4 linked regions of the Homo sapiens genome follow. The protein of the gene in region 1 interacts with the protein of each later gene in a pairwise test. Each region holds a gene or a part of one and is shown on either strand. Other genes may lie near its edges.

Region 1 (7,687 bases):
CTAAGGTCAGGAATTTGTGACCAGCCTGGCCAACACGGTGAAACCCCATCTCTACTAAAAATACAAAACTAGCCACGCATGGGGCGTATGCCTGTAGTCCCGGCTACTCAGGAAGCTGAGGCAGGAGAATCGCTTGAACCCGGGAGGCAGAGGTTGCAGTGAGCCGAGATAGCGCCACTGCACTCCAGCCTGGGCAACAGAGTGAGAGTCCGTCACACACACACACACACAATTCATTGAAGAACAAATGCATGCATTATCCACCTTTTTATCTGCCTCTTCCTTCCTAGGACTGCTGTTTACCTGGCTTTGTAACCCCTCCCCACTACAGGGCTCTAGTGGGTACACAGTCCACACCACCAGACCCTAGTCCCATACCCAGAGACCGTCCCTCACCTTACAACAGTCCCCATTCAACAAGGCCTCATCCTCCAAAAGGACTTCAGTCCTTTCCTTTCCTTTTCTGTAATAATCACTGCAGGACCCAGACACAGTGGGCTGCCTTGTGAAGCAGATTCTACGGATCCTGGCTGGCTGACAAGTGGTGAGTGGAGGTAAACGGGATGGGAGGTCTAAAAACTCCTTTATTTTTCCCCATTGCAACTGGAATAAATAGTCCGAACTCCCTATTGATTGTTATCCAGATGACAAAAACAAAACTATTTTTTTATGGAGACAGAGTCTCACTCTGTCGCCCAGGTTGGAATGCAGTGGCGCTTGAACCCAGGCACCTCCTGGATTCAAGTGTTTCTCCTGCCTCAGCCTCCCAAGTAGCTGGGACCATAGACATGCACCACCACGCCCAGCTAATTTTCGTATTTTTAGTAGAGATGGGGTTTTGCCATGTTGGCCAGGCTGGTCTCGAACTCTTGACCTCAGGTGATCTGCCCACCTTGGCCTCCCAAAGTGCAGGGATTACAGGTGTCAGCCACTGTGCCTGGCTGAACAAACAAAACTCTTTACTGAGATTCGTAGGCCCCATGTAATTGGGTTCCAGTCTCCCTTTATTATTATTATTATTTTTTGTTCAGACGGAATCTCGCTCTGTCGCCCAGGCTGGAGTGCAGTGGTGTGATCTCGGCTCACTGCAGCCTCCGCCTCCCAGGTTCCAGTGATTCTCCTGCCTCAGCCTCCCAAGTAGTTGGGATTATAGGTGTGCACCACTACACCCAGCTAATTTTTGTATTTTTGGTAGAGACTGGGTTTCACCATGTTGGCCAGGCTGGTATTGAACTCCTGACCTCGTGATTCACCTGCCTTGGCCTCCCAAAGTGCTGGGATTACAGGCGTGAGCCACCGCACCTGGCCCCAGCCTTCCTTTAAACTCAACTCTTTCCCTCCCTGGCTAGGAACTTTCTCTTCCCAGCCAGACTCCGCTTTTTACATCCTCTTTCCCACCTCAGGGCCTCTGAAGGTGCTGTCCTCTCCAAAGATGTTCTTCTCCACCTGGCTTCCTATAGCATGCAACCCCTATCCCTACAGCTTTTATTGCCATTTATTTTATTTTTTTCTTTTCTCAGATTGGTACAGGATGGTCTCACTATGTTGCCCAGGCTGGTCTCAAACTGCTGGACTCAAGTGATCCTCCCACTGGGAGGCAGCTGGGATTACCTACCCATGCTACCATGCCTGGCTTATACTTTTTTGCTTTTGTTTGAGACAGGGTCTAGCTCTGTCACCCAGGCTGGAGTGCAATGGCTTGATTCGGCTCACTGCAGCCTCAGCCTCCTAAGTAGCTGGGACTACAGGCTTGCATCATCACACCTAACTAATTTTTTAATTTTATTTTTAGTAGAGACGAGGTCTTACTACATTGTCCAGGTTGGTCTCGAACTCCTGAGCTCAAGCAATCCTCCTGCCTCAGCCTCCTAAAGTGCTGTGATTAGAGATGTGAGCCACTCCACCCAGTCCTTATTTTTTGCTATTTACATTCCCTCCCCTAAATCATGTACTCGAGAGCAGGGACTATGTCAGCACCCGGTTCCCTATCCAGTTATTGTAAGGATTCAATAAAAATTTGCTGAATTCATTAAAAAGAAAATAGGTCTTCCATCTCCACCCACTCCTCTACTAACCCTTTTCCCAAAAGTTCTCGATGGTTCCCACACCAAGTTACCCCAGTTCAGTTCTTCAGTCTCCTGCAGACATTCCTGAGTCCCATTCCCAGCCACTCACTCTCCATCATCTGCCCTGGAAACTTCCCACCCACAGGCCGGGCTCGGTGGCTCGCGCCTGTAATCCCAGCACTTAGGGAGGCCGAGACGGAATGAGTGCTTGAACCCAGGAGTTTAAGCAACTATAGCGAGACCCCTGTCTCTACAAAATATACAAAAAAATCAGCCGGGCGTGGTTGCACGTGCGCCTGTGGTCCCAGCTACTCGGGAGGCTGAGGCAGGAGAATCAACTGAGCCGGGGAGGTGGATGCTGCAGTGAGCCATGATCACGCCACTGCACTCCAGCCTGGGCGACAGAGCAAGACCGTGTCAAACAACAACAAAAAAACTTCCAGCCGCAGGAGTCCCATTAACGTACCCATTTAGTCATTCACTCGTCAAAAGTCCCGTACGTGCCCATTTCTCAGCCCTACTCCCTAAACCCCTAAACCCAACCTTCTCGCCCCAAGATGAGCTGCTGAAAATCCTTCACGCCACTGCTCGGCCCCATAAGGCCTATCCAGCCCGTTCCGTTTGAACCCCATACATCCCTTCGTCCTCGGGACCCCCCTCCAGCCCTCCTCAAGCGCCCCTCGTCAGTCTGGCCTCCACGCCCCGTCCCCTCAGCCCGCCAACCTCACTGCCACGACCCTGCGTGGCCCCTGCCGAGCCCGCGGGCAGCACCTGGCCTGTGCCTCGTCCAGGCTCTGGTCGGTGATGGCCATGATCTGCTGCAGGACGTCGCTCGTGTCGAGGCGCCGCGGGGCGGGGGGCGATGGCGCGGGGCGCGGCGGGGCGGCCATGAGCGGCAGGGCCGGGCGGGCGCTGTGAGGGTGCCGTCGAGCCTGGAGCACTACCACTGGCGCCGCAGCCAACCGCCGCTGCCTGAGCGCCGCGCCCGCTCTCGCTCGCGCCTAAGCCACGCCCACCGCCGCTATCGCCAGCCAACCCGTGTATTGCACCGCCTACAGACACGCCCCTTCATCTCCGTCAGCCAACCGGCGCCACGCACCGCCCCCGGGACTCGCCCCGAACTTCCCCCTCTCCGGGCTTGGACTGGGTTTGGGGTTGCCGAGGCAACGGCACTTCTCATAAGCGCCCTCCTTCCCCTTGAGAGAGGGCAGCGCTGGCTCCGCTCCAGCCAGAGGCCCCCATCCCTCACATCTCGCGCGGTGCACGCCTCCTTCAGCCCCACTCGCATCTCCTCAGAGTTCCTGCTCCTCCTCAGGGCCCCCTTCTCCTCAAAGCCCTCGGTCCTCAGAGACCCTCACTCCCCAGAGCACCCCAACTCTTCCTCCAAGCCACCCCCTCCTCCTCAGAACCCCACACCTCTTATAGCTTGATCGACAGCCCCCATTCATTTCCAGAAGCCCCAAGCCCCAGACCCCTGCTCAGTCCCCCTAATGCTCCCTGCATCCTCAGCCCCATCAGGTGGGCCACTGGGGCCCCTGGCTCTTCCTCTAGAGCTTTCCACGCCCCGTTCACCTGGCTAAGGCGGGGCGCAGGCGTGCGTGGTTGATGGCAACGAGGAGGTCAGAACGCAGCGCTTTTCTCCACTGCAGAAATCAATTCCAGTCACCTTTCAAGGTCCAGCTGAAGAGTGACCTCGCTTGTTTATTCATCTTCGCAGATTACAGTTCTGGGCATAGAAAATGCTACCACGTGGTTACCGAATGAAGGAAGGATGTTTACTGAGAGACTCCCCTGCAGTGTACCCCAAATCAGAGCGAATCCTCACATCTTTGTTTCTAGTCCTTAGGACACAGCATCGAAGGCTCCTAGTGCACAAGAAAAGGAACTGGGCGGTGGCTCATGCCTGTAATCCTAGCACTTTGGGCGGCAGAGGCGGGAGGATCACTTGAGCACGGGAGTTTGAGACCAGCTTGGGCAACATAGTGAGACCCCGTGGTGGTGCACGCCTGTGGTCCCAGCTATTTGGGACTTGAGAGGCTGAAGTGGGAGGATCACTTGGGCCTGGGAATTTGAGGCTGCAGTGAGCCATGATTGCACCACTGCACTGCAGCCTGGTTGACGGAGACCAGGTCTCAAAAAAAAAAAAAAAAAAAAAAAGTAATGGCCTGGACATGAATCTCTTCTCCAAAGTCACAGAACCTCCTGGAGCCTATTTGCTATGAGGACAGTCTCCAGATGTGGGCTCAGTAAAAGGTCCTCAGCCTGCTGGCTGGGAGCCCTTCCAGGGTGGGGCCCACGTTCTCTCCATTGCTGCTGGGGAGGAAATTCAAACACCATCTGGTATGGCTGGATTGGAGAGCGTCGGGAGACTCCAAAGGGGACGGCAGGGAGTGAAAAATGAAAGACATTGACCGAGTGTCTGGACAATAGGGAAAGCTCTCTGATGAAGGAAACCGACACTTGGCTCCAATGACAGAAAGTAATAGATTGCATGGGAGCCACGGAGACCAGTGCCTGTTCAAAAGGTCACCCACAAGCACAGCACTGCCCAGGAGGCCTGAACAGTAGTGGCCTTCAGGCTGGGTGCAGTGGCTGACACCTATGATCCCAACACTTTGGGAGTCTGAGGTGGGAGATTACTTGAGCCCAGGAGTTCAAGACCAGTCTGGGGAACATAGTGAGACCCCATCTCTACAAAAATAAAAATTAAAAAAATAGCTAAATTAGCTGGTCATGGTCCCAGCTACTTGGGAGGCTGAGGCGGGAGGATAAGTTGGGCTCAGGAGGTCGAGGCTACAGTGAGCTGTGTTTGTGCCACTGCACTCCAGCCTGGGTGAGAGAGCAAAACCTGCCCCCAACCCCAACAAAGTAGTATCCTTCAGAGAACTTGGAGGGGTGGGCACTGAAAGCTTCAGGGACCAGCAGAGACAAAAATTTGAAGCCACTTGGTGGAGACGGGAGATCGACAAGAGGAAATGGTCTCGAAGGAGACCCACGGGGTGCAGGTTAAAACCTGGAGGAGCTGATGTGAACAGCCAGCTCAGAGCGCCTGAGACAGAGTTGCCTTTTTTTTTTTTTTTTTTTTTTAGACAGAAATCTTACTCTGTTGCCCAGGCTGGAGTGTAGTGGCGTGACCTTGGCTCACTGCAACCTCCACCTCCTGGGTTCAAGCACTTCTCCTGCCTTAGCCTCCTCCTGAGTAGCTTACAGGCACCCACCACCACGCCCGGCTAATTTTTGCATTTTTAGTAGAAATGAGGTTTCACCATGTTGGCCAGGCTAGTTTCAAACTTCTGACCTCAGGTGATCTGCCTGCCTCGGCCGCCCAAAGTGCTGGGATTACAGGTATGAGCCACCTCACCCGTCCCACTGTTGCCATTTGGAGGTCATCAGGGGTCTCTACTGCATAGAAATTAGTTGGCAGCCTTGGCACTCAAAGTGCTCGGCCAGGGCCATTTAATATAGAAGGACCTGGGAGTTTTGGGTTCTTTGACAATGCATATTTCAGTGGTTTAAGAATTTGGCACAGGTGGCTGGGCATGGCGGCTCACATCTCTGAGTGACCTGGGTTCAAATTCTAGCTGTTATTCAGCATGGGATTCAAAAGTAGGGACATAACCCCACCTCCTCACTGGTGAGGTGGGAGCAGAGAATGACATCCTGGCACACACTGTGCCTTGGAGGGGGCCTCCCTGAGCATCTCAGAGGGGGCTCATGATGGATCTGGCACTCATGGGTTGGGTGCTGTGGGGTGAGGTAGGGAAAGCCCAGCTGAGCTTGGGACCAACCCTGGGCTTCGTGGGAATCTGAAGTCCCTTTCCTAGGGGCCTCTCTGGTCCCTCGGGGCCTGTATGTGCCATCTCCAAGCTGTGTTTACCATGGGCCAGATCACAACCTGTCTGAATCAGTGTTCTCACATAAAAATCAGAAAGACTGATCCCAGCACTTTGGGAGGCCAAAGCAGGCGGATCATGAGGTCAGGAGTTCAAGACCAGCCTGGCCAATATGGTGAAATCCCATCTCTATTAAAATACAAAAAATTAGCCAGACATGGTGGTGCATGCCTGTAGTCCCAGCTACTTGGGAGGCTGAGGCAGAAGAATCGCTTGAACCTGGAGGGGGCGGAGGTTGCAGTGAGCTGAGATCATGTGAGACTCTGTCTCAAAAAAAAAAAAAAAAAAAAAAGGCCAGGCATGGCGGCTCACGCCTATAGTCCCAGCACTTTGAGAGGCTGAGGCGGGCGGCTCACCTGAGGTCAGGAGTTCGAGACCAGCCTGGCCAACATGGTGAAACCCCATCTCTACTAAAAATAAAAAATTTAGCTGGGTGTGGTGGCATATCCCTGTAATCCCAGCTACCCGGGAGGCTGATGCAGGAGAATCACTTGAACCTGGGAGGCAGAGGTTGCAGTGAGCTGAGATCACGTCATTGCAGTCCAGCCTGGGAAACAGAGCAAGACTCCGTCTCAAAAAAAAAAAAAAAAAAAAGCCCAGCACAGTGGCTCATGCCTGTAATCCCAGCACTTTGAGAGGCCGAGGCGGGTGGATCACAAGGTCGGGAGTTCAAGATAAGCCTGGCCAAGATGGTGAAACCCCATCTCTAACAAAAATACAAAAATTAGCCGGGCACGGTGGCAGGTGCCTGTAATCGCAACTACTTGGGAGGCTGAGGCAGGAGAATCGCTTGAAACCCGGGGGCGGAGGTTGCAGCGAGCCGAGATTGCACCACTACACTCCAGCCTGGAGGACAGAGTGACACTCCATCACAAAAAAATAAAAAATTTAAAAAAAAAAGCACCTAAAGTGTTTACCAGTATGCCAGGCACATCAGAAGAGCTTGAGAAATGGTCATGCTCAAATCCTGCATCCCACTACCTGAACCCCACAACCTGTGGCTGGAAGTATGAATACAGGTGGTGGGGAATGGGATAGAAACGGCTGGGCACGTGACCTTGAACCATCAGGGCTCAAACAAAAGGGCAGTGGGGAGGGAGGGGGCTCATAGGGTCCAGACACTACTCTGAGCTGCAGAGAAAGACAGGGAGACAGGCAGTGAGATGGAGGCAGAGCAACAGATGGGGGAAACAAAGAACAGAAGCAGAGAGAAACAGATTCAAGACCCCAGTAAGAGAGAGGGGCCAGGCGTGGTGGCTCATGCCTATAATCCCAGCACTTTGGGAGGCCAAGGTGGGTAGGTGGATCGCTTGAGGTCAAGAGTTCGAGACCAGCCTGACTAACATGGTGGGACCCCATCTCTACTAAAAATATAAAGATTAGTCAGGCACGCGGTAGCTCACACCTGTAATCCCAGTACTTTGGGAAGCTGAGGTGGGTGGATCATTCAAGGTCAGGAGTTTGAGACGAGCCTGGCCAACATTGGTGAAACCTCATCTCTACTATAATACAAAAATTAGCCGAGTGTAGTGGCAGATGCCTATAACCCAGCTATTCGGGAAGCTGAGGCAGGAGAATCGCTTGAACCCAGGAGGCAGAAGTTGCAGTAACCTGAGATCAAGCCACTGCACTCCAGCCTGGGTGACAGAGCGAGACTCCCTCTCAAAGATAAACAAACAAATAAATAAATAATAAAAATAAAAATACAGAGATTAGCTGGACGTGGTG
Region 2 (7,021 bases), on another chromosome or scaffold:
CACACAGCAAGAAGGCCAGATCTTGACTCTTGGGTCACTGCTGGCCCTACTCGCTTTCCAAGGGCTCCTTGGAAGGAGATTGCCCTGTGGGGCCTGTGCTGGTGCCAGGAAGGGGCCCATGGAGGAGGTGCCGCTCCCTCAGGCCACTCAGCCCTTCCTCCAGCTCCAGGCCAGCAGAGGGGAGCTCCAGGCTCACTCAGTGGTGGCCTGAGGTTCTGTTCAGAGCTCCCCCATCCTGACACAGCCATCTGCCAGTCCCAGTGGGAGGAACGTGGACAACTCGCATTCCTCTCTGACTCTAGCATCCAAATCTGCAAAATGAGTTTATGCATCCTAACCTCTGAGGGTTCTGCGTGATCATAATAGGACTAGGTGCAGTGACTCAGTCTATAATCCCAGCACTTTGGGAGGTGGGTGGATCACTTGATCCCAGGTGTTCAAGAGCAGCTTGGACAACATGGTGAAACCCCATCTCTACAAAAAATAAAAAACAACCACCACAACAAAAAGTTAGCCAGGTGTGGTGGTGCCTGCCTGTAGTCCCAGCTACTTGGAAGGCTGAGGTGGGAGGATCACTTTTGAGCCTGAGGAAGTCGGGGTTATAATGAGCCGAGATCGAACCACTGCATTCCAGCCTGGACAATAGGGTGATACCCTGTCTCAAAGGAAAAAAAAAAATCATAATGTGAAAACACCGTGCGGGTAGAGTTATGAGAGTTTTTTTTGTTTGTTTGTTCGTTTGTTTTTGAGATGGAGTTTCACTCTTGTTGCCCAAGGTGGAGTGCAATGGCACAATCTTGGCTCACTGCAACCTCTGCCTCCCAGGTTCAAGCAATTCTCCTGCCTCAGCCTCCCAAGTAGCTGGGACTGCAGGCACCCGCCACCATGCCCGGCTAATTTTTTGTATCTTTAGTAGAGATGGGGTTTCACCATGTTGGCAAGGCTGGTCTCGAACTCCTGACCTCGCGATCCGCCTGCCTCGGCCTCCCAAAGTGCTGGGATTACAGGCGTGAGCCACTGCGCCTGGCAGAGAGTTTTAATCTAGAGATTGTCCCCTGCTTGTTCCTGTCCTGTCTGGCTAAGGTTCTGGAATCCCGGAGCTGAAGACCATGTTGGCGGGTGTGATCTTGGAGGACTACCTGGATATCAAGAACTTTGGGGCCAAGGTGGTGGGCCTCTCCTGCACCCTGGCCACCGGCAGCACCCTGTTCCTGGGCAAAGTGGTATGGTCAGGTGTGAGGGCACCCCAGCCACCCCGCCCACCCTACCCTGCCCCAGCTCTCCCCCATACCCCACCAAAGCTGGGTCAGAGCAGACTCAGGCCAGTGCCTGCCTTCAGGGAGCTCAGTCTTAGGGGAAGAGCCAGGCCAGGTCCCCAGTGTGACAAAAGCTACCTGAGGACAGCCCTGGGGGTTGGGGAGATGGAGGAGGGGGTGTGGTGGGGAAGCCGTGCTGCCTCGGGGTGAGACTGTCTCTGCTGCCCTCACCTGGGCCCACCCTTCCCTCTGCAGGGCCCTTTCGTGCACCTGTCTGTAATGATCGCTGCCTACCTGGGCCGTGTGCGCACCACGACCATCGGGGAGCCTGAGGTTAGGGACTCGGGGGCTTCCTTGGAGAAATGGGAGTGGGGAGGGAGGGGGCTGACTCTGAGCCCTGGACTCGGATCCCCCAGAACAAGAGCAAGCAAAACGAAATGCTGGTGGCAGCGGCGGCAGTGGGCGTGGCCACAGTCTTTGCAGCTCCCTTCAGCGGTGAGACCCCCCTCATGCCCCGCCCCCTGGGTCCCTCAAGCTCCTCCCCTCACACCCTGGGCTCCCTCGGCCCAGCTGAGAGCCTGGAGGAGGGGATGGGGCTCATTCTTGTTCTCACTTCAGCCCCGCTTTGGGTATAGCCACCCCCCGGGGGCGGCGGGGCGGGGCGGGTGGTTGGGGGCGTGGTTGGGCGGTGCTGAGAGGCTTCAGGATAACATTACACAGACTTGGGTTTGAAATCCACTGGCCCCTTGGCCTCTCTGAGCGCAGCTTCCTCCTCTGTAAAATGGGGATCAAACCGTTCCCACCCGATAGGGAGAGGGCGCACACCTGCATTCCAGGCTGGATGGATCCCTGGGCAGCGGGGTCCTCCCCGCCCAGGGCGCAAGCCCTGCCCTCCCCTTCTGTCTGTCCCTGTCCGGGCTGTAGGACAGCAGGACAGATGGCTCAGGGAGGAGGCGAGATGGGGGAGGGGGCCCTACAGCCACAGGTGGGTGGGGGTGGGGGCCCACCTGACATCAGTGTCGCCCCCAGGCGTCCTGTTCAGCATCGAGGTCATGTCTTCCCACTTCTCTGTCCGGGATTACTGGAGGGGCTTCTTTGCGGCCACCTGCGGGGCCTTCATATTCCGGCTCCTGGCAGTCTTCAACAGCGAGCAGGGTGAGCCCCCTGGGCTGCCTGACCCTGGCCCTGCCTGGGGGCCGGGGCGAGGGAGACCTCCCTTCTCCTCTGTGTACATCTCTTGCTCTTCCCTTCCCTCTCTCTCCCTCTTTTCCCTCCTCCGTGTTCCCACCTCCTTCAGGGAGGATGGAAGGGGCTGACCTGTGTTGAGCCCCTGACCTGTGTTGAGGGGCAAGGGGCCCTGAGGGTAGAAGGGATGAGGCTGGGCAGGGAGGCAAGAGCCTGGTTGTGGGGGCCTGGAATGCCAGGACACAGATTCCGAGTCAGGACCTGGCACCCCCTCCACCCTGGGCTGTTAGTCTGGGACTTGAGTTTGGGTCGGGTGGGAGCGCCATCTTGGCTCCCCACTGCCCTCCTTCCCCAGAGACCATCACCTCCCTCTACAAGACCAGTTTCCGGGTGGACGTTCCCTTCGACCTGCCTGAGATCTTCTTTTTTGTGGCGCTGGGGTGAGTGGGTGCCTTGGGCCCCTGAGAGTCCAAAAGGCATTCCCCCCAAGGCCTGGACTGCGGCCCCTGGTACTGGGGTCAGGCTCTGGTCTTACCTCCCTTCACCCCGCAGTGGCATCTGCGGCGTCCTGAGCTGTGCTTACCTCTTCTGTCAGCGAACCTTCCTCAGCTTCATCAAGACCAATCGGTACAGCTCCAAACTGCTGGCTACTAGGTAGGCTCTGGGCTAGGGGCTGGGGACATCTCAGTGAGTCCCTTGTGGACTCCAGACCTTATGTAGAAAGCCCCACCCCCATCCTCCCACTGAGCCCCTAAATCCCTCCCTAGCCCGTGGAGCATCTAACAACCCTCTCCAAGTCCCCACAGTCACTGTCCCCCCTTCCTTACTGGGCTACGAACCCCACATTGAACCCCCATCCCTCCTTCATTCTACAATCTCTCAGCGAAACCCCACCCCCTCACTGAGCCTCAAACCCTGTGCCCCTTCAAACCTTGTGTGGCCCCTGGCGTTGGCCTTGGCATTGGCCAGCCCTCCTGCCCCGGAGATGCACATGGCCCGCCCCGGCCCGGCCCACTGTCTCCTCCCTCCTAGCCTGCCTCTGCCCCAATTCTCCTCTCAATCTCCTGCGTGATTCCTCTGCCCTCAGTCATACCCAGTTGAGGGGCTCACCCCACGGGTTCTACCCGCTGGAGGGGGCCATGTTCCCTGCTCCCGCCCTTCCTCCTCACCAGTCCTTGCCTCGGTATCAGCCCCCAGGTGGGGAGCTCTGCTGCTGCCTGGACCAGGTCCTACTTCCCTCTCCTCGGGATGTAGGAAAGGGAGGGCCAGCCCTAGAGCTCACCCACCCCCCACAGCAAGCCTGTGTACTCCGCTCTGGCCACCTTGCTTCTCGCCTCCATCACCTACCCGCCTGGTGTGGGCCACTTCCTAGCTTCTCGGGTAAGGGGTCCTGAGCGGGGGTGGCAGGAGTGGGAACCCCCATTTGTTTTCCCCTTTGCATGTGTCTCACGTAATACCCTCAGCACCCCACCAGGGTGACACCTGGGCATCATTCTGCAGATAAGGAGACCATGGCTCTGGGAGGTCAGAGCCCTGCCCAAGGCCCCCCGCTGGGAAGTGGCAGGGGAGGATTCCAGGCGGGGTCAGGCGGTGCGGGGGAGGCTGGGGTCTGCCGCTGGGGGGGGCCCCTCATGTCCAGTTCCCACCTGCCCCGCCACAGCTGTCCATGAAGCAGCATCTGGACTCGCTGTTCGACAACCACTCCTGGGCGCTGATGACCCAGAACTCCAGCCCACCCTGGCCCGAGGAGCTCGACCCCCAGCACCTTTGGTGGGAATGGTACCACCCGCGGTTCACCATCTTTGGGACCCTTGCCTTCTTCCTGGTTATGAAGGTGGGCCCCCTGACCCCCAGGTGTGCACAGAGCCAGGACCAGCTCTGGTGGGGAGGGGCGGGGGTGCCTCCCTGCACCTGGTGGCATGGAGCCCAGGCCTCTCACCCACACTTCCTTCTGTGCCCCCTGCCCACTGCATGGTCCTGGATAAGTGGCTTCAGGTCTCTGGACCTCAGTCTTCCCATCTTTAAAATGGGGTGGTTACTGGGAAGGCAGAGAAGGAAGAAAGGAATGTACCTGGCACAGTGCCAGGCATACAGTGGGCATTTCTCAGGGTGAGGACCCTCCCCTAATGCCAGACTCTGGCAGTGGGTGCATGGCTGGCACCCTCTTTCTATCTAGGACACTCCCCTGTCCCCTGTCCTGTCTTCTCTTGTCCACACCTTGCCCAGCGGCCTCTAACCTCTGCCCTGGGCTCCCCCTTCCTGCAGTTCTGGATGCTGATTCTGGCCACCACCATCCCCATGCCTGCCGGGTACTTCATGCCCATCTTTATCCTTGGTGAGTCTGGGGTCCTGAGGTTCTGAGAGTTTTGGGGTTCTTGGGGCAGGGCCATGCATCCTGGTTCACCCTCTTCCCGGGTGGTACTAAGGATGGTCCTCAGGGATGGAGGGCTGTGGGGGCCGGGTCAGCCTGGCTCCCCCTCACCCTAAGTCTGTGGCCAGGAGCTGCCATCGGGCGCCTCTTGGGAGAGGCTCTTGCCGTCGCCTTCCCTGAGGGCATTGTGACTGGAGGGGTTACCAATCCCATCATGCCCGGGGGGTATGCTCTGGCAGGTGAGTGGGTCACGGCCCTGCTGGGTGGGCAATGTCGTGGGGCTGGGCTGGACCTGGAGAATTGGCTGGTGGTTCCCCAGGGCACGGAGCAGTCACTGAGTCCTCCAGTGAACCCCCTACCCCTCATGGGGGTCTGTCCCTCCTGAGCCCCACCATTCCCCGGGGCCCATCACTTCCTCGTGGCTCCTGTCCCCAGCCCTGCGGCCTCCCTTATCCCTCTCCTCTCACCAAGCCCAGGCCTTGGGGCACTTCCCACAGTGCCCAGGCTGTGGCCTCTTACAATTCCCACCCTAGCCCCCGGCAGCAGCCAGGCTAGTTATTCCCTCACATCAGGCTGGCCCCTGCCTCCTGGCCTGAGCCGACCTGTGTGGCTCTGCCCCGGCAGGGGCTGCAGCCTTCTCAGGGGCTGTGACCCACACCATCTCCACGGCGCTGCTGGCCTTTGAGCTGACCGGCCAGATAGTGCATGCACTGCCCGTGCTGATGGCGGTGCTGGCAGCCAACGCCATTGCACAGAGCTGCCAGCCCTCCTTCTATGATGGCACCATCATTGTCAAGAAGCTGCCATACCTGCCACGGATTCTGGGCCGCAACATCGGGTGAGTGGTGCCCACCTCAGGCTGACTGAAGGGGGTCACAGTGTTTGGGCTTGGCTGGGGGTGGAGGGCACCTCCAAAAAGAAACACCACCGCAGCTGACCTCCGACATGGGGGCTGGGAGGGGCTGACACACAGCTGTGCTCTCATCTCCACTCTCCCCAGTGCCCTGGGTGACCTTGGGCAAGTCCTTGGCCTTGAGGCCTCAGTGTCTGTCTAGGGGTCAGCTGGGCTTCACAGCAGGAGGATGAGTATTGCCCCGTGTACAGATTGAGGAAACCAGAGCTCAGAGAGGTGCCGTGTCTTGCTCCAGGTGACACAGAGAGTCAGCACCAGATCCGAGAGGTCTCCTCCCCTCTCCCCACTCCTGCTGTCCTTGCTGGGACTTTGGGAGCAGGAGGTGGAACGAGAATGGAAATGGGCTTTGAAGTCCTCACTCAACCAGATAGGACCAGAGCAGCTTCTGGCGCCAGAAAAGCAGACCAAAGAGGCTCTGAGAGTCCGAATCGGAGGCCCCGCTCCAAACACAAACAAGCTGCTGCCTTGCTCTGAACCTGTTTCCCCATCGGGAAAATGGGGCTGTTTATACCAGTGATTTTCAACCTTCCAAGTTTTTCCTTGGGGGTGACATACACTTTTATAATCAAATGGAATTATCCAGGGAAGGCTGCTGGGTCTGTACTCCAATCTCATTATTCATTAATGGATGGCCAGTCACTGACCACCTGGCAGATACTGGTTTTCCGTCATCTCACACTCAGCTCTGTCCAAGGTGGGACAAGACCCAAGTGAAGCTGGTCTGGGGGACATGGGGGACCAGGGGGTTGGGGATTTGGAACTGGGCCATCAGTAATGTGGTCCCCAGGTTTCCTCCCACTGTGGGTTCTAGGAGTCCCTCATTCCAGGAACCTCTCCAGCCCTGCTCACACTCCAGAGCCGTGGGTCCCTGGTTCAAGCAAAGCTCCCCTCAGATCCCCTTGCTGGCCTGGGTCTGACATCCCCGACTCCGGGACCTGATGGGAGCCCCTCTGCCTGCAGCTCCCACCATGTGAGGGTGGAGCACTTCATGAACCACAGCATCACCACACTGGCCAAGGACACGCCGCTGGAGGAGGTGGTCAAGGTTGTGACCTCCACAGACGTGACCGAGTATCCCCTGGTGGAGAGCACAGGTGCCCAGCTGGAAGGGAGGAGGAAGTCGGGGGTAGGGGATGCCCTCTGCCTCCTTCTTGAACCTGTCAGGCAGACAGGATCTGCATCCAGGCTCTGTGACTTAGCAACCAACCGTGTGACCTTGAGCAAGTCACTTCACCTGAGCCTCAGTTTCCTCATCAGCAAAATGGAAATCATGGCTACCCTCCCTTGGGGTGGTTG
Region 3 (7,021 bases), on another chromosome or scaffold:
TATTTTAGCTGAAAGGTTGAGTGAGTGAATGGATGGCAACATTAATCAAGATAAGAAATACTGAAACATGCATAAGAAGTAAAATAGTTTTGTTTTAAATATACTGAGTATCATAGGCCAATTGTATAAGCAAGAGGAGATTTCTTGAAGGCAGTTGGATAAGTGAGTCTAAAACTCAGAAGAGAATTTTGAGAAAGGGGTCTAGATTTGGAAGTCATGAGCGTTTAAGTGTCATCAAGGGAGCAAAATGAAAAGAAAAGATGATAAAATACATCAACATTAAAAATACCAACAAAACAACAACCATAGTGATAAAAGAAACAAAAATCATATTTAAAGTCTTCTCATCCTTCTGACTGAGAGAGGGCAAGATCTTTAATACTAATGGCAAACCCTAGGTGCAGCATTTTTAGTGACTTTGTCTCCTCCTCCTCACAACCTTGTATAAGGGTTTACTTGTCTGTTCTTCAGTTTCTTCATATTTAAAATGGAGAAATCCTAATCCTAGCTCTAGCCCTTTTCCTGTTTCATGAAGCTGTTGAGAAGATATCACTGAGTAATATTTAAAGCAGCTGGAGCCTATTTTAGTGAGCTACATAATTTTTTAAGGACATTATTGATTTGGACAGTAAGAATAGCCTGCAGGCAAATCCTGCAAGGTGCTTCAACAGACACACACGTCTACCTTCCTGTTGGCACAGCCCATGTTTGGCAGGTGTATTCCATTCCTTACAGGAAGGAATAGGTGCTTCATTGTGTTACAGAAGTCAGTAAGCTTTCACAAAACTAAGTAATTGACATCTTTCTCATTTCTGAGATCAGGTTTTCATAAATCATTCGACCTGGATAAATTGAGATTGTAGTTGATGTGGTAATTGTTGAAATACAATGAGGACATTGCAAAACATGATATTTAACTATTTCCTCCTAATCTCTTACCTTAACAACATATAAGAGTTCTAAATGGAAAGATGTCCTAATGTAGAAAAAGGAAACAAAAGTAAGATGAGCCTGTCTGTAAAGGAGAAGCCAGAAGAAGCACAACACAGATTCATCTCAGTAATTTGGGATTCCACTGATTCTGAATTTGTAGTAACAATAATAATAACTAGACAACATAGAGCTGACTTTTATATTGTGAAAAAGGTTTTATCACTAGTTAGTAGTATAAATTATATTATGGAGAAGGGATACATTTAGCCAGTTTGCAAGTAATATTTTCTGGCTTTTAACAATATATGCAAAGCAATGCTACTAATATCTTATAATGATTTCTGCTGGGAGCTATTTAATGGTTATTTCAAGTTACTATCAGATTTTAACAATAAACTTAAAATTTCATAGTGTAGTTCTATAATTCATACTCACATTTTTCTTTCCCCTCATTGCACAACTCAAGTTAATTAAACATTGCCTTAAAGGATTCATGTAGTGCTATGAGTCATAATATTCAGAGTGTGTAAGTTAGCACTAGTTTTTAACCACTAGGGAAGGTTCAAGTATTGCAGACTAATCTGAGAATACAGTGAATTTTCTAATGACTCTTCTAGTTCAGGTATTTGTACCACTAGACTGTTTTAGTGGATATACAACATTTATGTATAGTTTGCATTTTAGAAAAGTTTGTAGTAATAAACTTAGACAAGATTTGCCTTTTTACTCTAAGATCATTACTGTGTTCTTAAAGCAAAGTTTTTTGATGCACTGAATAATTTTGTTTTATTTTCCTGTTTTTTGTTAACAGAATTCTTGATAGATACAAAATCATCCAATAAACTTCAGCTAGTTTTCAGCATTATATGCAGTTGATTTGTCCATTCCTCAGTGGAACTTCCAAATCATCTAAACCAGCTTTGTATGACACTAAGAATACCCTCATTCCTTCAGTGTCTAGCTCTGTGCTGTGTTTATTTGCAGAGGACCCTCATGCATGGATCCATATAAATGAGGCAAACTGTGAAGCAGACTAGACTGTGCCGCTTACCGTAAAGTCTTTGAGAGAGGAAGATTGTGTATATGAAAACTGCTAGGCATGATATTTACTTATAAGGAAGATTTCTATGTGTATAACATCAAGCAAGATTTTTGGTTGAGGTTTTATGCTTTCAGTAAAGAAAATAAAAGAAGAAAACCAATTAATGGTCTGATTCTATCATCTTTTGTCAAGCATCTCTTACTGATCTACATGAATGTGACCTCCCGCTCATAGAGTAGTCTAAGAACACTGCAGAATGGACTTGTGAACTTTCGACTCTCTTTTCAATTTAATTGACTAGTTTTTAGTCAACTAAAAAAATCATTTTCTTTGACTAAAATGTCTATGTAGGTAATTTCTAGTGCATCTATGCTACTCAGAAATAGAAACGTGTTTTTTTAATTAGAACAAAAAGTCTGGTTTTATTAGTATCAAATCATTGTGTATTTTTAAATTATTTCCATGCTACTGTAACTTGAAATGTTTCCCACCTAACCACTATTTCTGGCTTTATGTTTATCAGCTGATTCTATGAAAAGATGGGAATTTAGTACATAGAAGTTACACAGTATACCAACCAATGAATCACTTATCTAAGTAACAGGTGAAACATTGCTGATATTTGTGTTTTGAAATATGTGCTTTTCTTAGGTAAAATCAGTTTATTCTACATTTAATATGTGATCCTGTCATTGCATAGTAAATGATTCATTCACAACCTTAATGCAAGTAGCTAAATGTATTGAAATAAGTGTCCTATAAATTTTGTGTGGCATCTAATGCTGACATAATTCAAGGATCTGGGTTAAAGTTTGTGTCGTTGCTGGGTTTTTTAACCTCAAATACTTGGCACTCTGTAGCAGTGTCTCTCACAGTAATGCTTTGTTTCTTAACATGACCGTGAGGACTGCTTGGTCACAGGCAAATACTGTCCTTTATCAGCCAGGACATTCTTAACAATAATTGCCCTTTTTTTCCCCTTCTCACCCCCATCCCAACCCCAACTTAGGTTGGAAAGGCTGGTGGATGTACTGAGGAAGAAGGTTGGAACCGGGACCATGAGGACAGTGATCTGATTGAAAAAAAACGACAGTCTGGGGAAGCGATCACATCTGGTGACCAGGCTGCTTCATTCAACACTGTGTAAACACCAAAGCCTTAACTTAGCAAACAGTTGTTAGAAGTGGGACACTCCAACCACATTCCAAGCTGAGATAAAATCAAATCACAAATGTTTAACCACTTTGCTGCTGACTTGAGTTATTTATCCAAATATATTAACTATAGACTTTTACCAATGGGTAGCTATAAGGTTACAGCTTATTTTGTAACTATTTTATATCTCAATATCTTTAATATAAATCTTTTTACTGAGAGATCATTATAGAAACATGTTAAAGTTGGTTAGGATCATATCTTCACATATGGCCCTTTCTGAATCAAAGTGCGGCAAAGTAAATATTGTCTAAGCTTTAATCCACTGTGTTAGGTCAAAACTTCAAATACATGCATTTTTCAATATAGGGTATATTTCTTAACTGATGAGAGAGGCTTAGACATGAGTGTGTAGTCTTCCTTCAATGCGTGTATGTAATCTTTGTTAGTATAAAAGATATTAAATATAGGTGCCAAGAATTAAATGTATAATTTGTTTAATAAGAGATGGATATATTAAAATTACATTCATCAAGGCATGATTTTTGTTTCACTACAAATAATGCAAACTGTTTTCAATAAAAAGAGGAGACTGTTAATGTGTACTTATAAATTCACATTGTCAGTATTTTTTAATATTGGGTCTGAATAATTATCTGAATTCTACTTAAGCTATAAGTCTCTGTCATTTTTGCTTGAAAATTAGCATGCCTCTGTCTTAAAAGAGACCATCAAACCTATTAAGTATTCTTATTGTTTATCTTTTTTTAATTGCCATTTGATTTTTATTGTGGAGGAGGAGGATCTAATATATAATATTCAATACAATTGTAATGTAGAAATATAAGAATTTAGAAAAAAGTAAACTTGCCATTTGGTTAAGGTTACCTGCTTTTTATTTTATTCCAGAAATAAGATAGTTACAGCATAGCAGTCATATGAAGTTATGAATAGAACTGAGATTTTTATGTAATTAGTTATAGGCAAAATACTTTCATATTTTTAGATTAGACAGACGAAAGACCAAGAGGAAATGACTGTGCCTGGAACAGGATGAAATAGACAAGTAGAGATTTAATTAGCAAAAATTTTGTAGGGAAGTAAAATTTTTTCTAAGTCTATACGTTTTTAATTCATCTTTAAGATTGAGCTAAATTATCTACCATTGCCTATTTACAGGATAAGTACATTCAGGACAATTTATTGTACCATTCTTTCATATACCATAGCAGATTATCCATTTCAATTTTTTTTTACTCCACAGGAAAATGTAAGCTACTTTGTCATAGATCACAAAAGAATCATAATGCTAACAAACTCTATTTCTTCCTTATTAAATCTGTATCCATTAAAGTAACTTTTTTAACTATGAGAATTAGAAAATAAGGGACAACAGGGGTTAAAAATAAACTGATTTAATTTGCTCTATAGTCCTAAAGAGAATTATATCCTCTCATAGACCAATGACTCTATAATAGAGAAATATGTAATGATTTGGTCATGCATGGAGTCTTGTCTCTGGGCTCTATTTGAAACGTGTAACAGCTCCCTATGTGAAGAAACATTATCTTTAAAGTCATCTGGGAGGTGCAGGTAAGTAAAGAGAAACAATTTTTGTCACAAAGTAGTCCATTCCTGATCTCACTTAAAATAAATCACAAGTAAATTTGAATTTTCGGTTTAATGTTGAAAGCAGATGAACTTTTCTTGAGTTATTTTGTCTTTTAGAATACACAAAATATAGTATAAAGACATTTCACAATTTCCAAACAAATCTTTCTACGCTTAAATGATCAAATTAGAAAAACCAATTCCTATAATTAATATGCAGAACTTTTATAGAATATGATATTATAAAGTTAAATTTGCAAAATAATTCTAACATCCACTATTGTTCAGTATAGGTAATCTCCCAAAAATATCACATCCTCTTGAAAATGAATTGTCTACAAAATTTCAAATGCAAAGTATTACAGCCAAATATTATCTTAATTAATTTCTTACACTTAAAAGTGTCCATCAACAGTGTGTCAGATGGTCTTTATATATTTTTTCTGTATGAAGGAATAGCCTTGCCTACTGAAGATAGGTTCTCTATGTATTCAACAATAATGCAACTTTAGAAGTATTCCACACTGCTGAGAAATGTTGCTTTGAGTTTGCTTTACACATCATCAACTCTAAATCCTATAGTAACATGAGAATTCACTTCTTCTTGTAAAAATAAGTAATTTACAGGAAAGGCAAAATGCTAATACTAACATTTGTAGCACTTGATGATTTACAAAGTCCTTTTACATCTGTTTTTTCATTTGATCCTATCGACAATCATAATAATAATAAATTATATATATAACCCATATAATAACGATGGTGATGATAATTTTAGTATTACTGTCATTATAATTATTATTATATTCATTCTACAGATGAGGAAACAGACTCAGTAAGCCTTGGAATTTGCCAAGGACTGGCTAGGACCTAGAACTAAGATCTTATAACCACACTCCATGCAACTATGAGTCTCTAAATCTCTCTGTAAGAAAAAAATTTCAAAGTAAAGATTTTACTCTTGCAATTTCTGTTGTGATAGTACCATCTCTTTCACATACTACATACAAATTCCCTAATAATCAAAAGATTGTACACATTTTTTTCAATGAAGTACAATAATGTGAACTGCATGTGTAAACAGCATCACATTATTACCACCTCTCTATGGTATTATAGTGGCAGTATGCTTTGCCTCAGCCTTCACTAATTAGGAATATTGTGACAATTCATTGCTAATAAAACATAACATGAGTCTCTTTGTACTGTTTTTAATTTGGCCTGATGCTAAAACCTATCAGCTTAGTTTTTTAACATGGTAGTCTAAACTTCAAGGCTTGCTCTATCTCCTAGAGCAATTTAGAGCTAAAACCAGTAATAAGCAAAGTTATTGGTTATAAGCAAGGTATAAGCAGTTAAAGCAAAGTTATTAATTATTAATATATGAGAATTTAAAATTTTATAAATAAGTTAGAAATTATTAATGTATTTTAAATATGGAGTAAAATATTTTGCTAATTTTTTTCAATGATAAAGTTGATCCTTTGTATATTTCCTTATTCAAATAAATTCAGTCATCTTCTTATCAGGTTGCTTATTTATATAATTTGTTTATTTTATTAAAAATCTAGAATATTAAAGATTTATACTTTTAATATTGAATATAGTTTCGTAGAAAAACATTTTATATGTACTATTCTTAAAGATCACAATTATTTTTAAACTTTCTATTTTCAAATACTTGTGATTAATAAGGCATTCTATGATGAAATAGCCATGGCTTATATATTTTTGTCTTTTCACATATGATGTGTTTGGAACCCAAATTTTTTACTGATTTTATTGTGTTGTTGGTAACTAGTATTTACAGCTAACCTATCTATTCATATTTTACATATATATATATATATATACATGCACACACACCGATACATTTACCTTTTAAAAAAATGATTTATAAGTGAACTGTTAGGCTCCAGTGATTTCAGTGTTTTGTTCATGTTTTATTGGAAATGCACGTGGTTTCTTAGGCTTTTAAACAAATACATGGAATGGTTGAAAGATTTATTTTGCTCGTGCTTAGCTAAATATGTCATCTCTAGAAAAGATGTGGTTTGTTTTGGCACTGTTTTAAAAACTCAAATATTTTAAACATTTGTTAAGTTGGAGCTTGCACATTTAAACCAGCAGCATACGTTCCAGAAGAGCATCTCAAGTTACCAAATTTTTTGTAATCCTTTTACTAGAAAAATCTTTTTTGAAGAGTTTTTCTTGTGCTTGCTTCGGCAGCATATATACTGAAATTAGAAAAAGAAAACTTTTCTTTTTTATTATATATTT
Region 4 (7,959 bases), on another chromosome or scaffold:
AGCTAATCTAGTGGGGACTTGGAGAACTTTTGTGTCTAGCTAAAGGTTTGTAAATGCACCAATCAGCACCCTGTCAAAACGGACCAATCAGCTCTCTGTAAAATGGACCAATCAGCAGGATGTGGGTGGGGCCAGATAAGGGAATAAAAGCAGGCTGCCCCAGTCAGCAGTGGCAACCCACTCAGGTCCCCTTCCACGCTGTGGAAGCTTTGTTATTTCGCTCTTCACAATAAATCTTGCTGCTGCTCACTCTTTGGGTCCACCCTGCCTTTATGAGCTGTAACACTCACTGCGAAGGTCTGCAGCTTCACTCCTAAAGCCAGGGAGACCACGAACCCACCAGGAGGGATGAACAACTCCGGACGGGAGGAACGAACAACTCCAGACGTGCTGCCTTTAAGAGCTGTAACACTCGCCACCAACGTCTGCAGCTTCACTCCTGAAGTCAGCGAGACCACGAACCCACCAGAAGGAAGAAACTCCAGACGCATCTGAACATCTGAAGGCACAAACTCCGGACACACCATCTTTAAAAACTGTAACACTCACCGCGAGGGTCTGCAGCTTCATTCTTGAAGTCAGCGAGACCAAGAACCCACTAATTCTGGACACATTGCTAGGCTGTGGAAGTTCTGCTGGATAATATCCTGAGAGTGTTTTCCAACTTGGTTCCATTCTCCCTGTCACTTTTAGGTACACCAATCAAATGTAGGTTTGGTCTTTTCACATAGTCCCATATTTCTTGGAGGCTTTGTTCATTCCTTTTCATTCTTTTTTCTCTAATCTTGTCTTCACACTTTATTTCATTAAGTTAATCTTCAATGTCTGATATGCTTTCTTCTGCTTGATCAATTCGGCTATTGATATTTGTGTATGATTCACAAAGTTCTTGCTCTGTGTTTTTCAGGTCCATCAGGTCATTTATGTTCTTCTCTAAACTGATTATTCTAGTTGTCAATTCCTCTAACCTTTTTTCAAGGTTCTTAGCTTCCTTGCATTGGGTTAGAACATGCTTTTTTAGCTCGGAGGAGTTTATTATGACCCACCTTCTGAAGCCTACTTCTGTCAATTTGTCAAACTCATTCTCCATCCAGTTTTGTTCTCTTGCTGGGGAGTTGTGATCCTTTGGAGAAGAAAAGGTGTTCTGGTTTTTGGAAGTTTCAGCTTTTTTGCCCTGGCTTTTCCTCATCTTCATGGATTTATCTATTATTGGTCTTTGATGTTGGTGACCTTCAGATGGGGTTTTTGTGTGGATGTCCTTTTTGTTGATGTTGATGCTATTCCTTTCTGTTTGTTTTCTTCTAACAGTCAGGCCCCTGTGCTGCAGGTCTGCTGGAGTTTGCTGGAGGTCCACTCCAGACCCTGTTTGCCTGGGTATCACCAGCAGAGGCTGCAGAACAGCAAATATTGCCGCCTCTTCCTTCTTCTGGAAGCTTCGTTCCAGAGGGGCACCCACCACATGCCAGCCGGAGCTCTCCTGTATGAAGTGTCTATAAATCCCTCCTTGGAGGTGTCTCCCAGTCAGGAGGCATGGTGGTCAGGGACCCACTTGAGGAGGCAGTCTGTCCCTTAGCAGAGCTCGAGCATTGTGCTGGGAGATCCATTGCTCTCTTCAGATCCAGTAGGCAGGAACGTTTAAGTCCGCTGTATCTGCGCCCACAGCCACCCCTTCCCCCAAGTGCTCGGTCCCAGGTACATGGAGTTTTATCTATAAGCCCCTGACTGGGGCTGCTGCCTTTCTTTCAGAGATGCCCTGCTCAGAGAGGAGGAATCTAAAGAGGCAGTCTGGCTACAGCAGCTTTACCGAGCTGGGGTAGGGTCCGCCCAGTTGAAACTTCCCTGCAGCTTTGTTGACACTGTGAGGGGAAAGCCACCTACTCAACCCTCTTAATGGTGGACACCCTTCTGCCCACCAAGCTGGAGCATCCCAGGTCGACTTCAAACTGCTGTGCTGGCAGTGAGAATTTCAAGCCAGTGGATCTTCGCTTGCTGAGCTCCATGGAGGTGGGATCTGCTGAGCTAGACTACTTGGCTCCCTGGCTTCAGCCACCTTTCCAGGGGAGTGAACGGTTCTGTCTCGCTAGCATTCCAGGCGCCACTGGGGTATGAAAAAAAAAACTCCTGCAGCTAGCTTGGTGTCTGCCCAAACGGCTGCCCAGTTTTGTGCTTGAAACCCAGGGCCCTGGTGGCATAGGCACCCGAGGGAATTTCCTGGTCTGCAGATTGCAAAGACCATGTGAAAAGCATAGTATCTGAGCCAGAGTGCACTGTTCCTCACAGCACAGTCCCTCACAGCTTCCATTGGCTAGGGGTGGGAGTTCCCTGACCGCTTGTACTTCCCAGCTGAGGTGACACCCCACCCTCCTTTGGCTTGCCCTCTGTAGCCTGCACCCACTGCCTAACCAGTCTCAGTGAGATGAGCCAGGTACCTCACTTGGAAATGCAGAAATCACCTGCCTTCTGCATTGATCTCGCTGGGAGCTGCAGACCGGAGCTGTTCCTATTTGGCCATCTTGCCAGCCACTCCCTTTAATTGTTTATTATTCATTTGGGTTGAAAATATAATTACTGAAGTTTTCAATAGGAGTTATTCTATAAAGTACGTTGTAATCTTTCAATAGAAATATGCACTAAATGTTTTCTTAACATTTGGATTAATTTTCCTTGGATAGTGATATACCCATTGAAACATTTTTGGTAAACAAATTTAGAAAACAATTTTAAAAGGTAGTAAGATGATTGAAAGCTGTTATTTTCAAAAATTGTAATCAGTTTCTGACTTACTGTGTTTGATGTGGCATATGCCTTTTGGTTTTCTGTTTGTTTTGTTTTCCATAACATGATATGACAGGGTGTTATTCTCACTGTTGATTGCAGGCAAGAGTACAAAAAATTATTAGAAGTTAGCTTGTGAGCATTTAATAAATGGAATTGTTGAACTATAGACAATGTCTGGGGTTCACTAAAAATGTATACCTTAATAAGAATCTTCTTTTGATTTGTTAATGTTTAGATGACAGTCATGAGAATGCAATAAATGCCTTGTGTCTGGAGGTCAGCGGGGTATCTTTCTAGGCCTTTCTTGTTTTTATGGTGTATAAAATAAAGTTATGTGAGCTTGATGAACACTGGAACAAAATTCCAGGGTCTACTTCTCGTTTGTCTTATTTTTAGATTTTTTTTTTCATTATCAGGTTTTGTGACTTCTTATAGAGAATGAGACAAGTGTCAGTCAACCTGTGGGAGAAATCCTGGGCCATGCCTTCTCTATTTTCAGTCCTCTTTCTTACTGTCTTTTAAAATATTTTTAGATTTTTATTTTGAAACAATTATAAATTCACAAGAAGTTTCAAAGATACGTACATGGAGGCCTTTTGTACCCTTCAACCAGTCTCTCCCAATAGTAAAATCTTCAATACACTACCACATTACACTATCAAAACTAGAACATTGACAGTGATGCAATCCAGAGCTTTTTAAGATTCAACACTTTTCTTTTGACTATTCTAGGCACTTTATATTTCCATAGGAATATTATAATTATCTTGTCAATTTCTATTAAAAAGGCTTTTTAGAATTTTGATTAGAATTTAGTTGAATCCACAGATGAAATTGGAAATAACTGCCATTTTACAATATTGAATCTTCCAACCGAAAATCAAAGTATAGATCTCAATTTTTTTCTTATGTCATTAATTTATCATTGTAAATTTTTGTAGTTTTAAGTGTACAAGTCATTTACATCTTTGGTCAGATTTATCCCTAAGCCTTTAATATTTTTAGTGATATTTTAAATTGCACTGTTCTTAGTTTCAACTTTCAGTTGTTGAAATTAACTTCCAGTCCACCCTAGGACTACCATTGGCTAAAACATTGTCTCTTCTAATATAGAAACTTCTCATATGTAACTGCTAATATATAAACATACAATTGATTTGTGTGTTGATCTCTTACTTTGCAATTTTGCTAACCTCAATTAATGTAGAACCATTTTTTTAGATTGACTTTTCTACATATACTCTCAGGTAGTCTTTGACAAAAGATACTTTTACTTCTCCCTTTCCAATCTGAATGCATTTTTTTTTCTTTTACACTGGACACAATCTCCAGTACAAAGTATAACTGTGCCCATACTGGTGCACATGTGGGTCTTAGATTGTAGCATCCTGCAGGTAAATACTCAGAACAACTTCCAGCACTTGAATATCCACTCCTTCCCCCACCCACATACTGGCAGAATTCATGTTGGGATACTACATTTACTATGAACATAGACCCCTGATTTGAAACAAGACTAGGATACATGGTAAAGAAAGTTTATTCACCAAAGTTTTGACAGACTGAAGGCCATTATTTCAGATTGGAGATAGGAAACTTAAAAGAACTACATGGACATTGGGTAAAAGAACATGGGTTGAAATTTGCCTGGCAGTAGCCTAAAAGTAAATGGTCTTCAAGGTGCATGTGAAGGAACTGTAGGAGGGAAATGGGATAATTCACATCTCCACCAATAATTAAATGTAGCCACACTAGCTTGGAGGGATTTGAGGTGAGACATCTAAAATACTAAGTCATGGTGAGGGCTGGAAGACAAAAGAATGAATGACTTCATAGGAATGACTGTGGGGAAGGGCTTGAAGGAATCATCCTCTCACTTCCATGTGAACCATGAACATTAAACATGGAGAAATGAGCAGCAGCAGATTAGTTTGGGATGCATCTTCAGGGGATGCTGAAACAACAACAGCATTTGGTTTCCTCTACACCCCTGTCATCCGTCCCCCACAAGCCCAGGGAGTGGTCAGCAGTGGTGCTTTGTGATGTCTAAGCCACCCTAGGACTGCCATTGGCTGGGACACTGCCTGTATGATCAAACAAAGCTCAAGAGTGTGGCTTTGCCTTGCCACCAGGAAGGTATACATAGGGAGGGCCAGAGCTCTGGGACATCCTCCTGGCAAGCTTCAATATAGCTGTGGAAGTCTGCAGTCTACAAGAGCCTACTATAGACATTCTACAACCAAGCAGAATCATGGAACAGCCGACTTCAAGCACCAATGGGGAGAAGAGGAAGAGCCCCTGTGAATCCAATAACAAAAAAAATGATGAGGTAAGATTGTTAGGTTTTGAAGGGAAGGTGAGGGTGAAAGAAAGACACACAGAGAAGGGACGGCTCAAACAGCAACACAGGAATACTGCAGACACCTGTGGAAGTGGGGGACCCGCTTAATGCCAGAACCCACCGCCGCTTACAGGCTGGGGTGCTTATAGGTATGGGTGGGAGGGGCCGGGGCAGTATGGCTTGCTGCCCGGCAGGATATTGATAAGATGTTTTTATGATCAGGCTGTTTGGTCCTTTTTCCAGTGGGATGTCATTGTGGTGTTTCTTGGAACTTTGCCCAGCAAGATACCATAGGAAAGTTTCTTTAGTTGGACCTGTGTCCGCCTTGTGTTACGACGATTAGGCAAGATTTTTCTCATGGCCCGAACCCCCGTGGAATGTTTCACTTTGATCAAGGTCTGCAAAATAGCAGGGTGCTTACTAAATGGTGGTTTGGACTCACATTCTTGCCTTCTACTTTAGTATAAAAGGAAGAGGGGCATTGTTGATTATCTGGCTGCTTGCTGCCGAATAGGGGAGCTGTAATCAGGGTTTGGGTTTTGAAGCAGGGGGTGACGGACTTCAGAGTTGTTTTCCTGGAGGCACTGGTACCGGACTTGGCAGAGGAGAAGGATGGTATCAATGTGTTGCTGGGTGGCTGCCTGGAGAGGGGAGTTTAGCCTTCGGGAGATAAAGCAGGATATGAAGGTGAGTATACATCGGCCAAATGTACTATCAGGAGGAGGAAGATTAACGGCCCTAAGAAAGGGACCACCTGCTATCCCAGTGCTGAGTGCATCAGAGATGTTTAGTTCTGCTAACACTAGAATGAGATGTACAGCCTGCTTAGTGTGTGTGGAGGAAGATGAGACAGAAGCTACTAAAGGAACCTGGATGGTCTGCTTGTTAGGCAAAGTGTTAATGTTTAGATTGAAACACAAGGGTGCATGTTCCTGACCAATTGGCCAGTAGGCAGAGATAAGAGTTTGTGCCGCAAAGGAAGAAGACACTAGGGGTGGACAGACAAAAGTTGTAGGTTATGGTGGCAAGTCATGAGAAGGTGGGGGTTGAATTCTGCACAAACCCTTTGTTTTAACTTTTATGTTTTTCCAAGTTGAATACCTGCCAGCAAGGGTAGCCCCTCTGAAGGCCTGATAGGAAATGTTGGTAGTGGAGGAGGTGAAGGCTGTTTGGTTTTGGAGAGAGAGCAGGAAATGGGTTTTTGTAACTAATAGCCATTGCGGTCCTGACAGCGCAGAAGGATACAGGTTGCAGTTGAGGGAATTGTTTGTGGATATTTTCCAGGGAGCGCCCTTGACTTGGATACATGGAGAGCGGCTCCGGCAGAAAGGGGAGGGGTTGATAAGAGGTATTTTCTGGAATCCGACTGGTAACATGTTTAGTTAAGAGGCTATGAGGTGAAGGAGGGTGACAGCCCTGTGTGTGACGGTGTGGGTGGATTTGATGGATTGGTGGGGGGGGAAAGGTGATTAGCCGAGCAAGATTATAAGCAGGTTTTGCGAATGAATTGGTCAATTAGGTGAAATGCAGGTTTATTTTGGACAGGGTTCATGTGGCCAGGTTAACAGGAAGGGCTGTGAACTACTGGATTTGTGTGGACAAACAAATTTAACAGTTGGAAGGAAGAGGGGAGTGTGACTGATTTAAGAGGCAGTGAGGCTGATGAAGGGGGCTCATCTGTTAGACGTTCGGGGTGGGGACTTAGAATATCCCACAGATAGAGAGGACAAAAGGAGAAAGAGGAGATTTGAGTAGGAGTGAAATTTTGGAAGGTGCCCTGAAGTCATATCTCCTTGATTAGTGTGACAAATTGGCCTGGACTATTCAGGGTCATGGGGAAGGGAAACCAGGAAAGATCTGAAATAAAGTAGGAGACAAAAGATTGGAAACTGGAGACAGAGAGTGTTATGGACTAAGGTGTTCTGGATTGGCAACTTCTGGAATTCTTGTTAAGTACAGTGAGGTTGGTCTTGTCAGGGAAGGAGAATAATTTGGGGGTGAACAAATTTCTAGATGTGGATCTGGTGCTCTTTTTAGTTTGAAATGTGCATTCAGTGTGCAAAGGATGTTAGCTTTGGCGCTGTGGGAGTAGTTAGCATCACCTGGTGAGAATTCCTCCACTTAGGTTGGAGAGCGGGGGAGGAGGAGTCTGTGATTCAGACCCAGCCCGCTGGTTGTAGGGACAGGGAGGAGTGTTTTGAGGATGGACTTTTAGGCTGGGTCAAGTAAGCATTTGCGTACTGTCTTATTAGATGTTGGGTGAGGTGTAACGCCGGCCAAGTATTCCATATAGAATGGGGGGAAAATACAGGGAGATTCTGGAGGATAAATGGAGCATTTGTACATGAATTTAAATGGGCTTAGGCTGAGCGCTTTTAGGAAATGACTCATAATCGCATGAGGAACAATGGGAGAAGTGAAGTCCAGGCCATTTTAACCTTTAAGGAGAGTTTGGTTAGTTGTTGTTTTTTATAAAATTTTTCCTGAAGATTCGGAGTGGTAAGGAATATGGAAAGCCCATTTAATGTTTAGAGCCTTTACCAGCTGTTGGTTAAACTGAAACAAATTGGCCCATTGTCTGACTGGATGCAAGAGGGGAGTTTAAACCGGTGGATAATATGGGTGGAGAGAATAGAAGCGATGGTGTGTGCCTTTTTGGTGGTGGTAGGAAAAGCTTTTATTCATCCAGAGAATGTATCTACTATTGTTAGAATGTATAGGAATCACTTTCTGGGGAGCATGTGAGTGATGTTGATTTGCTAGTCCTGCCCTAGTAAGTGTCCTCAGGTCTGGTGTGTGGGAAAGGAGATGGTTTGATAGCTTCCTGAGGGGAAGTTTGA

Evidence for each region.
Region 2: the proteins of PBX4 (region 1) and CLCNKA interact in binary tests that used the Homo sapiens proteins (3 or more experiments, as listed by UniProt).
Region 3: the proteins of PBX4 (region 1) and MIPOL1 interact in binary tests that used the Homo sapiens proteins (3 or more experiments, as listed by UniProt).
Region 4: the proteins of PBX4 (region 1) and SPANXN2 interact in binary tests that used the Homo sapiens proteins (3 or more experiments, as listed by UniProt).

Annotation. Positions count from the first base shown.
Region 1 is NC_000019.10:19,615,674-19,623,360, forward strand, and holds the start of PBX4 (pre-B-cell leukemia transcription factor 4), read right to left. Parts: upstream 3,015-7,687; 5' UTR 2,957-3,014; coding exon 2,838-2,956; intron 1-2,837.
Region 2 is NC_000001.11:16,025,025-16,032,045, forward strand, and holds part of CLCNKA (chloride channel protein ClC-Ka), read left to right. Parts: intron 1-1,083; coding exon 1,084-1,223; intron 1,224-1,511; coding exon 1,512-1,589; intron 1,590-1,672; coding exon 1,673-1,751; intron 1,752-2,285; coding exon 2,286-2,411; intron 2,412-2,796; coding exon 2,797-2,881; intron 2,882-2,993; coding exon 2,994-3,095; intron 3,096-3,736; coding exon 3,737-3,821; intron 3,822-4,101; coding exon 4,102-4,275; intron 4,276-4,706; coding exon 4,707-4,776; intron 4,777-4,940; coding exon 4,941-5,051; intron 5,052-5,436; coding exon 5,437-5,650; intron 5,651-6,685; coding exon 6,686-6,819; intron 6,820-7,021. UniProt on the Homo sapiens protein: Anion-selective channel permeable to small monovalent anions with ion selectivity for chloride > bromide > nitrate > iodide. Forms a homodimeric channel where each subunit has its own ion conduction pathway.
Region 3 is NC_000014.9:37,543,921-37,550,941, forward strand, and holds part of MIPOL1 (mirror-image polydactyly gene 1 protein), read left to right. Parts: intron 1-2,984; coding exon 2,985-3,051; 3' UTR 3,052-7,021.
Region 4 is NC_000023.11:143,717,739-143,725,697, reverse strand, and holds the start of SPANXN2 (sperm protein associated with the nucleus on the X chromosome N2), read left to right. Parts: upstream 1-4,945; 5' UTR 4,946-5,029; coding exon 5,030-5,107; intron 5,108-7,959.